Regions from separate parts of the Homo sapiens genome. Here regions 1 and 3 are each linked to region 2. The links come from fine-mapping of genetic effects on gene expression. A gene starts in region 2. Each other region holds a variant in brackets. All regions are shown on one strand. Distances are from middle to middle. Region 1 holds the start of LOC105371840 (a long non-coding RNA gene). Region 2 holds the start of DYNLL2 (dynein light chain LC8-type 2). Region 3 has its middle 21 kb from the start of SRSF1.

Region 1 (4,232 bases), 22 kb before region 2:
AGGCAAAAGTAGCAAATCTCTAGTGGTGGAATTTCAGGCTTTGAGGCAGACAAATGGATGCAGGATATATTTTGGGGAAGGGAGACATCTTGTTATGATGTGTGGTAGCTGTGTATTTGCCACATGGCTCTCCACCACAGAACTTCCCACATGAATATTACCTGCTTGGTGTATACTATACACATATAATGTCAACAAAACTCTCAGAATGAAGAGCAAACACATCTAATAAACATGTGGATTTTTAGAGCATGCAAGCTTTTTTAGGGAAAAAAATATGGAAGCATTTTCAGTGTCAAGTCTCACCACGAGGCAGGCTCTTCAAGCTGGAAGAAAGGCATCCGGAAATACGAGTTTGTCATGGAAACGCTGATGGGGCTTCAGCTGAGTGATGCTCACAGGTGCAACCCAGAATGGCACAGCCTCTTGTGGCTTATTTACATCCCAGCCTGCTGAACGAGCTCACTTTTCTTGTTGCCTGGCCCTGGGGGCTTCTTACCAGGAAGAACTGTGGCTGTGGCTGTGTTTCTTGGTGGAGATTTTCAGCAGGAAATTACAGGGGGTCTTAGGATCAGTTTCACATCTGGGAGAAAGGCTCCTGGAGAGAGTGGAGAGATGAATGAAGTAAAGAAGGAAGAAAAGGAGGGAAGGAAGGAAAACATACTGATTCTAAGTGCCAGGACCTACCCAAGGAGAACACAGGCATCATCTTCATGTCTTCATCACCATCGGCTGTAACCCAGTGAGGTACCTAAGGTTATCCCTGTGTTACAGAGAAGGAAACAGGCTGGCGGCACCCAGAGGGGAGCTGACAACCACATCCTTGGGTAGACTAGATGGCCAGCGGTGCAAGGATTGGGAAGCTTCCCCTGAAACCACCACTTTGGCTGACACCAAAAACCCTAGAGCAGGGAACAAAGGCCTTCTCTTGACAAGCAGGGAGAAACCTAGAGAGGCCATTCCTCCTGGGAGAGCTGCATGCTGACTCCCCTGGGTCCTGTCAGGGTGGATGACTGACCACGACCCTGTGCTGCGGGCAGGCTATGGTCCAGGAGGGACACTGGGTCCTTGAAGATACAGGTTCTCTGTTCTTCCCAGCTGGGCTCCAGGAGTCACATCAGGAGCCAGAGAAGGGCATCAGTTGCTTTATGGAGCCAATAGGTGGGGCCTAAGAGGCTGGGGGAGGGAGTTGGGAATAGGAAAAGGTTGTCTGCCTGCGGGACGTTTCCATTTGGCAGAGAAAGTGTGGTCCCTTAGGGGCTCTCAATCCAATCCGACAGGAGAGACAAGAGCTCTGCACACATGGAGTCCAAGAAAGATGGAGGAAAGAAGACACAGGCCAGAGATTCTAGGAGCTCACAGACTGGACAGGGAAAGACCTGTTTTTCCCGATCCTGGCCACAGACCCAGAGGTCCCAACCATCTTGGGAACTGCCCTGGACTCTGGCAAGAGTTAGGGTGAGACCCAGACCCCCCAAGTTCTCTCCTACACATCTACAAGGCCCCCAGAGTGTTCTTCTACAATGCTTTCTATCAGAGCCACCTGCTCCTGGGGGCTTGCAGCTTTGGCCAGGACCAGTGAGTGGCTCTGCTGGGAGGCTGCTCTAATTAGGCCCAGGGTCACTCCCCAGCCCCATCTGTCCTCAGCAACATGAGTCCCACCTTTTCCTCCTCACCAGGAGCCTTGGGAGCTTGGGAGACATTCCAAGGCTGGCTCTGACATGAATTTGCTGCACAGTGCGCCAGGCGATCAGAGCTGACTCCTCTCCCTTTTCCCTTGGAGGTGTTGATAGTAACAGCAGCGATGAGCTGCCAAGTTGGCAGGAGAACAGAGCGACTGTGCACTGCGGATGGAGGGGGGC[G/A]GGAAGCAGCAAGCCGGCAGAGGGCTGGGCCAGAACGACAGTTTGTTTATCCTGAAATTGAAAGGGTCCCTCCAGTCTCAGCCACCAGCATCTTGCAGGAGGGAGGGTGACTTCCTAGAAGGTGGAGGCTCTGGTGGGAGGCCCAGGGTTGGTGATGTGGGTGTTGCTAGAGTCGGGTGGGTGGAAGGGATCTTTTGGTTGGGCCTGAAGCCATCAGCCAGCCTGGCCCCAGAGGCAGGACAGAGACCCACCTTTGTTCCTGCTGTTGAGGTGGCTGTGGAGTTTCTAAACTGGAATGGACCTGGGGTGGGGAGCTAGAGTTCTGAAGCTGCTTCCTCCTAAATATAGAGACCTCAAGGGGCATTTAGGAGGGTACTCATGCTCTGTCAATCAAACGAACCTGGGACCTTGGGCAAGTATTTGAATCCTTTGAGCCTCGGAGATTAAGAACATTTACTTTAAAGCTTTGTGTGAGGATTCAATAAAGTAGTGACGGCAAAAATTTGTTTCCTGTTTACTCCAGGGCAGACATGGTGCTAAAAGCTTTCTGTTTGTGAAGCATTTAATCCTCAAACTTTATCAGGTGGGTACTATTTGTATTCCTATTTTATGAATGAAGTAACTGAGGCACAGAGGGGGTAAGCAGCTTACTCAGTGTCACAGAGCTAATGAGTAGCCACAATGGGGATTTGAACCTAGTGGTGTGTTGCTTAGGCCTATGTTCTCAGCCCCTGTAGAAACTGTCTTCACAGTGCAACTGAGTTCTGAGCAGGGTGCCTGGCACAGAGCAAACATTTAATGAATGTTAGCTACTATCATGACTCCCCTAGAGCAGTTCCAGACAGGGGACCTAGGCTCCTGATATCTATACCAGGGACTCCCTGGGGTCCTAGGTTGTCCTCTTTCCATCTTTTGTCTATACTATCTTGCTCATCCTAGGAGCTGGAGGAACTTCTCTTTTGGAGAGATTGCTGCTGGTCTTCCCTGCTTCTCTCATCCCCTCCTCCCGAAGGCAGAGCAGAGGAATTCTCGGCTTCTTCCAGTTACCCTCAGCCTGCAAAGAAAACATAGTCTGCTGCGTCTGCTGCCAGTTCCTCTCTGGCGACAGCCACAACCCATTTGCTCAGCATCAGCCCCAGCCTGTGCTGTGGGTAGAGCCCGGAGCCTGGGGCAGGACCCCAGTGCCCTGTGTGAGAGCCTGGGTCAGTTACTGTAAGGCTGGGCCTTGGGGGCCACTCAGAGGGAGAGGCATGGCCCACATAATTTCTTGAAGACTCTGGCTGTAAGAGTGGTGACTGAAGGCTGGTGTGCTGTATGCATAGACTCTTTCTTTTTTTTTTTTTTTTAGGCGGAGTCCCTCTCTCTGTCACCAGGCTGGAGTGCAGTGGCACGATCTTGACTCACTCCAACCTCCACCTCCCAGGTTCACGCCATTCTCCTGCCTCAGCCTCCCAAGTAGCTGGGACTATAGGCGTCCGCCACCGCACCCAGCTAATTTTTGTATTTTTAGTAGAGATGGGGTTTTACCACGTTGGCCAGGAAGGTCTTGATCTCCTAATCTCGTGATCTGCCCGCCTCAGCCTCCCAAAGTGCTGGGATTACAGGCGTGAGCCACTGTGCCCGGCCGCATAGACTCTTTTTAGGGTAGGAAATCCATTGTATAAACATGTTCTCAGTTTTGGAAGGTTCATTAATACAGCCATGCAAATTGGTAACCAGCTTTACAAGCTCACTAAACTGTGCTACTGGCCACCCTAAGGTGCCAGACAAAGAATCCTGTGCCACTTTCTGCGTGGCCAGAGCTACCTCCTGTCAGCTGCGAGATAGCCAAACCACAGCCAGGAGCCCAGATTACTGACTGCTCCCTAGGCCCGAATTCTTCCCTGGGACGATGAAACATCAGGCATTTGTGTGGGGGAAAGGAACTGCAGTGTGGACATCTCAGAACAACACTGTTTTGTTTATGTAAGCTGTGAGGCATTGTGGGTGTGCTGGCTACAGAGTCACCCCCCTGTTTCCATCACATACGAGAACTGATGACAGGAGATCAGGTAGCGTTGGGAAGCTGGGGCTAAAACTCTGCTATGGACTCAGAAGAAAATGGAATATTCTAAATATTATAGAATAGACACAGCAAGGATACAGTATCTTCTAGTTAGAAACTTTTAATTAAAAGAATGTTCACTCCATAGGGATCAGCTAGAACATGATGGTCAATAATTATAAACAGCTGAGCATGGTGGTGTGCACCTGTAATCTCAACTACTAGGGAGGCTGAGGCAGGAGGATCACATGAGGCCAGGAGGTCAAAGCTGCAGTATGCCACGATTGTGCCTGTGAATAGCCACTGTATGCCGGCCTGGGCAACAT
Region 2 (4,232 bases):
CTACAGTTTAGTCCTTGACACACACACACACACACACAAGAGCACTGATATTCACATTTCCTAAAAGTGAAAACCCGTGGCTCTGACTTCTGTTAGTTGAAGTTCTTCGTGCCCTTCTGTCCACCACACCACAGCCTGGAAATGAGCAAGCTCTTATCCCTATTATACTTCAGGGAAGGGGAGCAGGGAGAGGGAGGATTTATGCCCTGGCAGCATGGCCTTTGAAGGGCCACTGCTAGCTCATAGTAACCCTTGGGAACACTTGAAAGAAGTCATCTTCTGGTTGGACACTGGCTTGTACCGTGACACACAGGCTAGCAAGCAGTGTGCCGGCTGTATTTTAGCACCCGCTTGCTCCATCGGTTGGATACTCTTGCGCAGTGAATGACCTGTGCAACCATACGTGGCAGATCTGACCTTCAGGCCCTGGAAGGGCCTGGAAACTAAGGACTGTTGGAGAAAGGGGGTACTAGCTTCGCTTTCTCCAGGCAGTCCAGGCGATTAGCCCCGCACAAGCCCTAAGTGTATAAATCATCCTTCCTCGTCTCCCTCCCTTCCTCCCATAGAGGCCACGCCTCCCATTCATGAACACAAAGACTGACATCAGAAAACCCTTAGTGTGAGGGGATACCCCAGGCCTTAACTGGTCTCTGAAATCCCCCAACTGAGGTTGTTAGAGGACAGAACTGTGGAAAGCAGTAACCAGAGGGAATGATTTTTCCAGGTTTCCCCTGACACATAACGAACACTAACTTTTGATGCTTCAAACCAGAGCAGGCCAGGGCCAGGGCAAGTCTGACTTCCTGACCATGGTTTGGAGAGGCGAAGGGGAAAAGATGGGAGTGGGAGCTATCCCCGGCAGCTTCTTAATCCCTACTGTATGGCCAAAATGCTTGGTTCCCAATAAAGGCTCGTCAGCCCTTGAGGTAGACACTTCTGTATAAAACAGACCAGAAAGAAAACCGCAGGCCTGAGGATCTTTCCTGGGAGTGGGATGGAGTGAGGGCAGGCAGGCTCCCAACGCGCACGTTCACACCCACTCTCCCAGAAGTAGTCTCTTGAGCCTCCAGAGGGGCTGCTTCCTGGGTGCACCTCTTTTCAGCTAGAAGCAAGTCAAGCCTGACCTGCGGGATCTGGCAGGGCTCTCTGTACTTGGATTCTCTCCTTTATAAAGTGAGGGGTGTGGATGGGTGGTTTTTGAAGGCTCCTCACAGCTCTGACAGGCACCACCTCTGGGGGCTTCTATTCACTCTCCTCCAACCTTGTCTACCTGGACAGGCAGGGACAGACGACAAGAAATCGCTCACTCTCACCCCCATCCCAGGACCCCAAGGCCATAAATGTGCAAGGACAGCAGAGGCCTGCGTACCAAAGACACATCCCCATCAATTTTGCTTCGGCTCTGTCTCCATTGCTCCTGTAGACAAATACCGGCTGGGGGCCCAGCTGGGAGTTTAGGTCCTTCAGCCTCAAAGAACAAAGGAGGAAGAAGGGACCTTCCCGGAAGGTGAGGGGAGGGAGTCCTGGGGCTCCTATGCCTCTCCCTCTCCATAGGGCTGGCTGTCCCTCTCTTTCTCACAGATACGGGAGGAGGGAGTGTCCTGTCTTTTCCTCTGAGGCTGGTGACTTCATCTCCTCCCCTCTCTAAGGTTGGGGTCTCTACCTCAGCCCCATCTGTTCCCTGGGTCTGAAATCTCCATCCCCCTCTCCCTTTTTTCTCCTTGGGACTGGGGGTCTCCACACCCTTCCCTCTCCTCCTCTCTCAGGACCATGTCTCTTTATTCCTTTTCAGGCCTGGCCTCTCCAGCCCCGGGGGGAGGGGTCCGCATTCCTCTCCTTTCTTAAGGCCACGGCTCCCTCCCCCACCCGCTCCAGCTCCTCCTCCCCACCCCCTCCCTCCGCCCCGAGGCATTGTGGGAGGAAACAAGATGTGGGGCGAGAGCGGCGCGGGGAGAAGCCCGCAGTGCGGGGCCGGGCGGGCTCAGCCAATGGGGAGCGCGGACGGCGGCGCGCGCGGCGGGGGGGCGGGGGCGGGGCACTATTTCAGCGGGGGCCGCGCGTCGGCCGCGCTCAGCGGCAGAGCGGAGCGGAGCTGTGAGGCGCCAGTGCGGAGCGGGCGGGCGGGCGGGCGGCGTGAGGCGGAGCGCGGGCGGCCGGCGAAACTCCAAGGGCGGACCGCGGCAGGGAGCGATCGGCCTCGGGCTGCGGGAGCCGGAGACCGCGGCGGCGGCGGCTGCTGCAGCTGCAGGAGGAGCCCAGGGAACACCGCCCCTGCCTGTGCTCTGCCTCGGGCCATCGCTCCTCCCCAGGGCCCAGTGCGGACTCGCCTCCGTGAAGGTGAGCGGTGGGTGGGGGCGTCCCCCGGGTGGCGGGCCTGTGTCCGTCGCGTGCGACTCTACACGACCCGGCCCTCGCCGCGGTGGCCCTGCGGCCTCCTTAGCCGGCCCCAAGGCCTGGAACAGGGCTGGCCCCGCAGCCCTTGGCGTTGACGGTCCGGGCAGCGCAGCGCGCCCCCGCCGCCCCTCCCTCTCGGCGCAGCCCGGGCTGCGCCACCCTTTGCCCCGGCCACCCTCGTGGCGCTGCTGGAGGCCCGGGCTGCGGAGCTGCCGCTGCCCCCGCCCCCGGGAGTCTCTCTGCGCTGCGTGGAGGCCCCTGATGTCAGGGGCCGGGGAAGAGGGGGTGGAGAGGGCTCGGGCGTGACGCGGCTCCTCCTGCCGCCACCGCCACCCTCTGGGGCGTCCTTCCTGCAGCGAGGACGCCCAGTCACTCCGGCGCTGTTCCAGGCCGGGTGGGGGAGGGCGGCCGACCGGCCGGGGCCTGCGGACCTGGCCGGCGGCGCGGGCGGGAGGTCGGGGGGAAGGAGGATGCTTCCTCGTTCCCCAGGTGCTGCCCTTCGGGACCGCAGCGCTCTGGAGGATGGGATAGTGGAGGGATACGGCCCACTTGGAGAGCCCGAAGAGGGAAGTAGAAGTGTGTGTGTATTGGCGGGTGGGGATGGTGGTCCGTGTCATTCGGAGATTTAGCCTTTTTTTTTGGTTGCAAAACCAGGAATAGAGGATGGGAGCTGTCCTGGGGTGCCCTTTGTGCTTTTCACAGGAGCCTTGGCTCGTGACTGAGGCTGCTGGCCTGGGGCCCTCTGGCCATCTTCCTCCTATCTGGAGGCCCAGGTCCCTTGCTTTTTCCCAAGGAGGGAGGGGCTAGGCTGGACACCTTCCTGTGCTTTGCTTACCGGCACCTTGGACAGGGGTGGTAGGGGTTGGGCTTCACCTCTCTCAGATGCCTGGGGGGCCATTGTAGTCGTAAGACCAATATTATGTAACCGCAGGCTCTTTCCTGGAGAGTAAGGTGGCTTTTAATTACTGTAACAAAGTTGCTCCTTTGGACTTTGGGAATGAGGCAGTGGAGCAGGTGAGCTTGCAGGCAAAATGGTGCCAATTTCATACTTTCACTTTGCTGTCTAACCAGGCCCCACCCCCACCCCTGGGTTTGTAAACAGTGCCCCCTTCTGAGTGGTAACCTGGAATAGGCCACCAGGTGACACTAGTTTTTCTTCACTTATACAGAGCCTTATAATGTAAGAACCTTTCTCCCTGTGCTGCTGTTGTACCTTTGCTCAGACCCATTTGAGTTTACCCCATTTATCTCATTTCAACCATTAGTATTTAAAATGAAGATGTTGATTTGCCCAAGGTCACGTAACTAGTCATTCCTTGAACAGGGTTCTCCGAATCTTTCCTCAGCACCACATGGTGCTCACAGACTCCAGTTGAGGCTCTGACTTTTCCTCTCCAGAATGTGGGGGCAGAGGGTGCTGGTCTACTACCTCTTTGCTCTGCCAGTTTCTGCCGAAGTGGAACCAGCCCTGCTTAGTTTGGCAGTGCTATCTAGATGAAGGGGCCTTGGATGCGGTCAAGGGCTGCCTGGCTGGCAGCTGGCATGTGTGCATTCTCTGCATGTGGTGCAGGCTGAAATGGTGGTGGTGAGTTCTGTTTTCCCTTTCAGCCATCTAGCCCACAGGCTATTGTGAACTCCGAGATCAAGGTGGCCTGGAATGATACCAAGGATATGTCCTTGAGCAGGCAGCCTCCTGTGTAGCCTTCCATCAGATAGAGCTGGAATGACAGCATCTCTTGTCCATTGGGCTGGGCCACAGAGGGGTGCTTTTAGGGGTGGGATGATGGGGGAGATAGTTACTGCTCCATGTGTTGGGACTGTGGTCAAGGACAAAGGGC
Region 3 (4,232 bases), 55 kb before region 2:
AGATCCAGGACAACGATTCTATAGCTTCGTTAGAGGACTGCTTTATTTTATTATTTTATTCTATTCTATTCTATATTTTATTTTATTTTTTATTTTATTTTATATTTTTTGAGACGGCGTCTGACTCTGGTGCCCAGGCTGGAGTACAGTGGCGCCATCTCAGCTCACTGCAACCTCTGCCTCCCAGGTTCAAGTGATTCTCCTGCCTCAGCCTCCTGAGTAGCTGGGATTACAGGCACGTGCCACCACACCCAGCTAATTTTTGAATTTTTAGTAGAGATGGATTTTCGCCAGGCTAGTCTCAAACTCCTGATCTCAGGTGATCCGCCTGCCTCTGCCTCTCAAAGTGCTGGGATTACAGGTGTGAGCCACCACGCCTGGCCAAGGACTGCTAGTTTAGATTGGAGGGGTGACCATGGAAAACTGCAGGTGTGGTATCTCTGGGCAGGAGGTGGGGAGAGAAGGAACTGGTAGATCATCTGACAGCATTGACCAACTGACCGTGTAAAACTTGCATGAAAACACTTCAATGTTGGGTAGTGTTGCAAGATTTAACTATAAGTTTAAGGTAATCTAAGTGCATGAAAAATGGGATCGATACATTCATACAGTGGAATATTGCTTAGCAATAAAAATGAATGAGCTATCAAACCATGAAAAGATATGGAAAAATCTTAAATGCATATTGCTAAGTGAAAGAGAGGAGTCTGAAAAAACTGCATGCTGTATTTCAATTATATGACATTTTGGAAAAGGCAAAATTACTGAAATGGTAAACAGATCAGTGGTCAACAGGGTCTCAAGGAGGAAGGTTGAATAGGTGAAGCAATCAGGGTTTTTTGGGGAGATGAAATGATTCTGCATGACACTGTAATAGTGAACATGAGACATTAGGCATTTGTTAAAACCCTAAAACTACTATACAAAAAGTAAAGTTTAATGTATGAAAATTTAAATCATTTAGGAGGTTGGGGGAACTCAGCACGAAATGCAGAATGTGACAAAGGAATCTAAATGTGTTGCGAACATACAAAGCAATCTTTCCAGAGAGGATGAGGGAATAAGGGTCTGACCTCTGTAACTTTGGAAATGAGTGGAGTCTGTAATTATAAGGCAAAAGGCATTCTATATAAACACCGTAAATATACTAGTTAATTAAAAAAAAACTAGTTGTTTCTCACAGGGATACAGGTTAAGAATTCCAAAATCATTATACATGTATATTGGAATTGAACAATTAAGAAAATGGATGGCCAATGGTGAAAGTGGGGTTCTCTTTGTTAGAAGGAAAGCTTACAGACAAGCAAGAGGCAGAGGCTAGAATAATCTGTGTGGTAATTAGAATTAGAGAAATCAGCATGAACTCGTGTTTACCTTAATATGGTTTGGATGTATGTCTCCACCAAAGCTCATGTTGAAATGAGATCCCCAATGTTAGAGGTGGAGCCTGATGAGAAATGTTTGGGTCTTGGGTGTGGATCCTTCATGAATGGATTGGTGCTGTCCTTGTGATAATGGGTGAGTTCTTGCTCAGTTAGTTCATGTGAGATCTGGTTGTTTAAAAGAGCCTGGGGCCAGGCGTGGTGGCTCACGCCTATAATCCCAGCATTTTGGGAAGCCAAGGCAGGCGGATCACGAGGTCAGGAGTTCCAGACCAGCCTGGCCAATATGGTGAAACTCCGTTTCCAGACCAGCCTGGCCCATATGGTGAAATTCCGTCTCTACTGAAAATACAAAAATTAGCCAGGTGTGGTGGTGTGTGCCTGTAGTCCCAGCTACTTGGGAAGCTGAGGAAGAAGAATCGCTTGAACCCAGGATGTGGAGGTTGCAGTGAGCCAAGATTGTGCCACTGCACTCCAGCCTGGGTGACAGATCAAGACTCTGTCTCAAAAACAAAACTAAACAAAACCAAACCATGAGGATTTAATAAAAGGACTCCTAAAGCTCTTTGCCAGAAAGAAGCCCCACTGCCACCCAGAGAAGGCAGAGGCAGGGAGAATTGCTTGAACCCAGGAGGCAGAGGCTGCAGTGAGCCAAGATCACATGGCTGCACTCCAGCCTGGGTGACAGAGCAAGTCTCTGCCTCAAAAAAAAAAAAAAAAAAAAAAGAGTCTGGGACCTCCCACTTTCTCTCTCTCTCTTGCTCTCTCTCTTGCCATGTGACATGCTTGCTGCTGCTTCACCATCCACCATGAGTAAAAGCTCCTTGGGGCCTCACCAGAAGCCAAGCAGATGCTAGTGTCATGCTTTCTATACAGCCTGCAGAATCTTGAGCCAACTGAATCTTTTTTCTTTATAAATTACCCAGCCTTAGGTATTTCTTTTTAGTAATGCAAAAACTGACTAACACAGATGGCTACATATATATATATTTATAAATATGCATATATATATATATACACACACATGTTAGTATACACACATATCTCTCCTTGCTCTGTCAGCTGAGAGGGCCTAGAAGCAAGACACCCCAGTAGCAATGAGCACACCTAGCACCCAGATCTTGGTTTCTAATACCATTCTCCAATAAAAGAGCCAGGGTTCCTTGGAAAAATGATTGATTGTAGGACTGGGA[C/A]AGGAAATATACGTAATGAGTCTGGAGCATCTTTTAGTGCCGTAAAGTAAGAAAGTGCATACAAAACCAAAACCAAACTAAAAACCCACCATGAGGCCGGCCACGGTAGCTCATGGTGGTGGCATGTGCCTGTAATCCCAGCTACTCAGGAGGCTGAGGCAGGAGAATTGCTTGAACCCAGGAGGTGGAGGTTGCAGTGAGACGAGATCGCACCACTGCACTCCGGCCTGGGCAACAGAGCAAGACTCCGTCTCAAAAAAAGAAAGAAAGAAAGAAAGAAAGAAAGAAAAAAAAAAACCACCACAATAATGGGGATATGTATAAAGGATATAGGACCCAACTGACAGAGCACCCAATGGCCCAAGCTAAAACAATCTGAGAAATAACAAAGAAAAAAAATACACAAAGTAGTATTGGAGTATCACCAAAGTATAAATGATATAAATACATGATTAAATGTATTAGGAGCCCAGCCTGTGGTTTTCTTTTATAGTACAGTATAGAAATGAAGGGGGCAGGCTGGGTGTGGTGGCTCCTGCCTGTAATCCCAGCACTTTGGGAGGACGAGGCAGGTGGATCACCTGAGGTCAGGAGTTCAAGACCAGCCTGGCCAACATGGTGAAACCCTGTCTCTACTAAAAAATATAAAAATTAACCAGGTGTGGTGGTGGGTGCCTGTAGTCCCAGCTACTTGGGAGGCTGAGGCAGGGAGAATTGCTTGAACCAGGAGGCGGAGGTTGCAGTGAGCGGAGATCGCGCCACTGCACTCCAGCCTGGGTGACAGAGCGACACAACATCTAAAAAAAAAAGAAAAAAAAAAGACAAATGAAAAGGGGAAAGTAACTTTAGAGTGAAGAAAACTGATAAACTCCATCAAGCCATTCAATCAAGATTAACATCAACAATGATAAGTCATATTGATAACACGTAACCTTGGTATGGCATGATAAAAATGGCACTTTACTTCCGTGATCTTCCTCTTCAAAAATGTTACCCCTGTCTAATTACAAGAACATCAGACAAATCCTGATTGAGAGTCATTCTACAAAATGCCTGACCAGTAATCCTCAAAACTTTCAACATTATAAAAACAAAGAGAGTCTGGGAAACTATTATAACCAAGAGGAGTCTACAGAGACATGACAACTAAATGTAACAAAGTATCATGCGTGGGATCTTGGAACAGAAGAAGGACATTAGGGAAACACTGAGGAAATCTGAATGAAGTATTAACTTTAGTTAATAACAATGTATCATTAGTGTTTCATTAATTGTGACAGATATACCCACTAATGTAATATGAGAAACTGGGTGTGGGGTATATGGGATCTTTCTGTTTTATCTTCTCAACAACTCTGTGAACTAAAACTATTCTAAAATTTTAAGAGTTTATTTTTAACAATGAGGCAATATTGATTCTAAGAGAACCAAATGAACAAAAAATGAAGAAAAATCATAGTAAAACATTGGCTCAACCTTGAGCAATATTTACATCATCATCATAATTAAAATGTAAAACATGGGCCGGGTGCAGTGGCTCATGCCTGTAATCCCAGCACTTTGGAAAGCTGAGGCGGGTGGATCATGAGGTCAAGAGATCAAGACCATCCTGGCCAACATAGTGAAACCCCGTCTTTACTGAAAATACAAAAATTAG

Evidence for each region. PIP is the estimated chance that this variant, and not a neighbour inherited with it, causes the effect.
Region 1: its variant is fine-mapped to the expression of DYNLL2 in whole blood (TOPMed, PIP 0.98).
Region 3: its variant is fine-mapped to the expression of DYNLL2 in nasal epithelium (TOPMed, PIP 0.96).

What each region holds. Positions count from the first base shown.
Region 1 is chr17:58,058,961-58,063,192 of GRCh38, forward strand. LOC105371840 (a long non-coding RNA gene) reads right to left here and starts at 984. Exons shown (of 4, transcript XR_001752951.2): 1 at 688-984; 2 at 500-598. The variant G/A (reference allele first, on the strand shown) is at 1,863.
Region 2 is chr17:58,081,347-58,085,578 of GRCh38, forward strand. It overlaps DYNLL2 (dynein light chain LC8-type 2), which reads left to right and starts at 2,073. Exons shown (of 3, transcript NM_080677.3): 1 at 2,073-2,337. DYNLL2-DT (DYNLL2 divergent transcript) reads right to left here and starts at 1,858. Exons shown (of 3, transcript NR_110809.1): 1 at 1,370-1,858; 2 at 1-1,270. RefSeq lists an enhancer at 1,802-2,096 and silencers at 1,813-2,162, 2,173-2,232, 2,273-2,692, 2,733-2,862.
Region 3 is chr17:58,026,629-58,030,860 of GRCh38, forward strand. No RefSeq gene overlaps it. Among named protein-coding and RNA genes, the nearest start is that of SRSF1, 21 kb to the left of the region's middle. The variant C/A (reference allele first, on the strand shown) is at 2,576.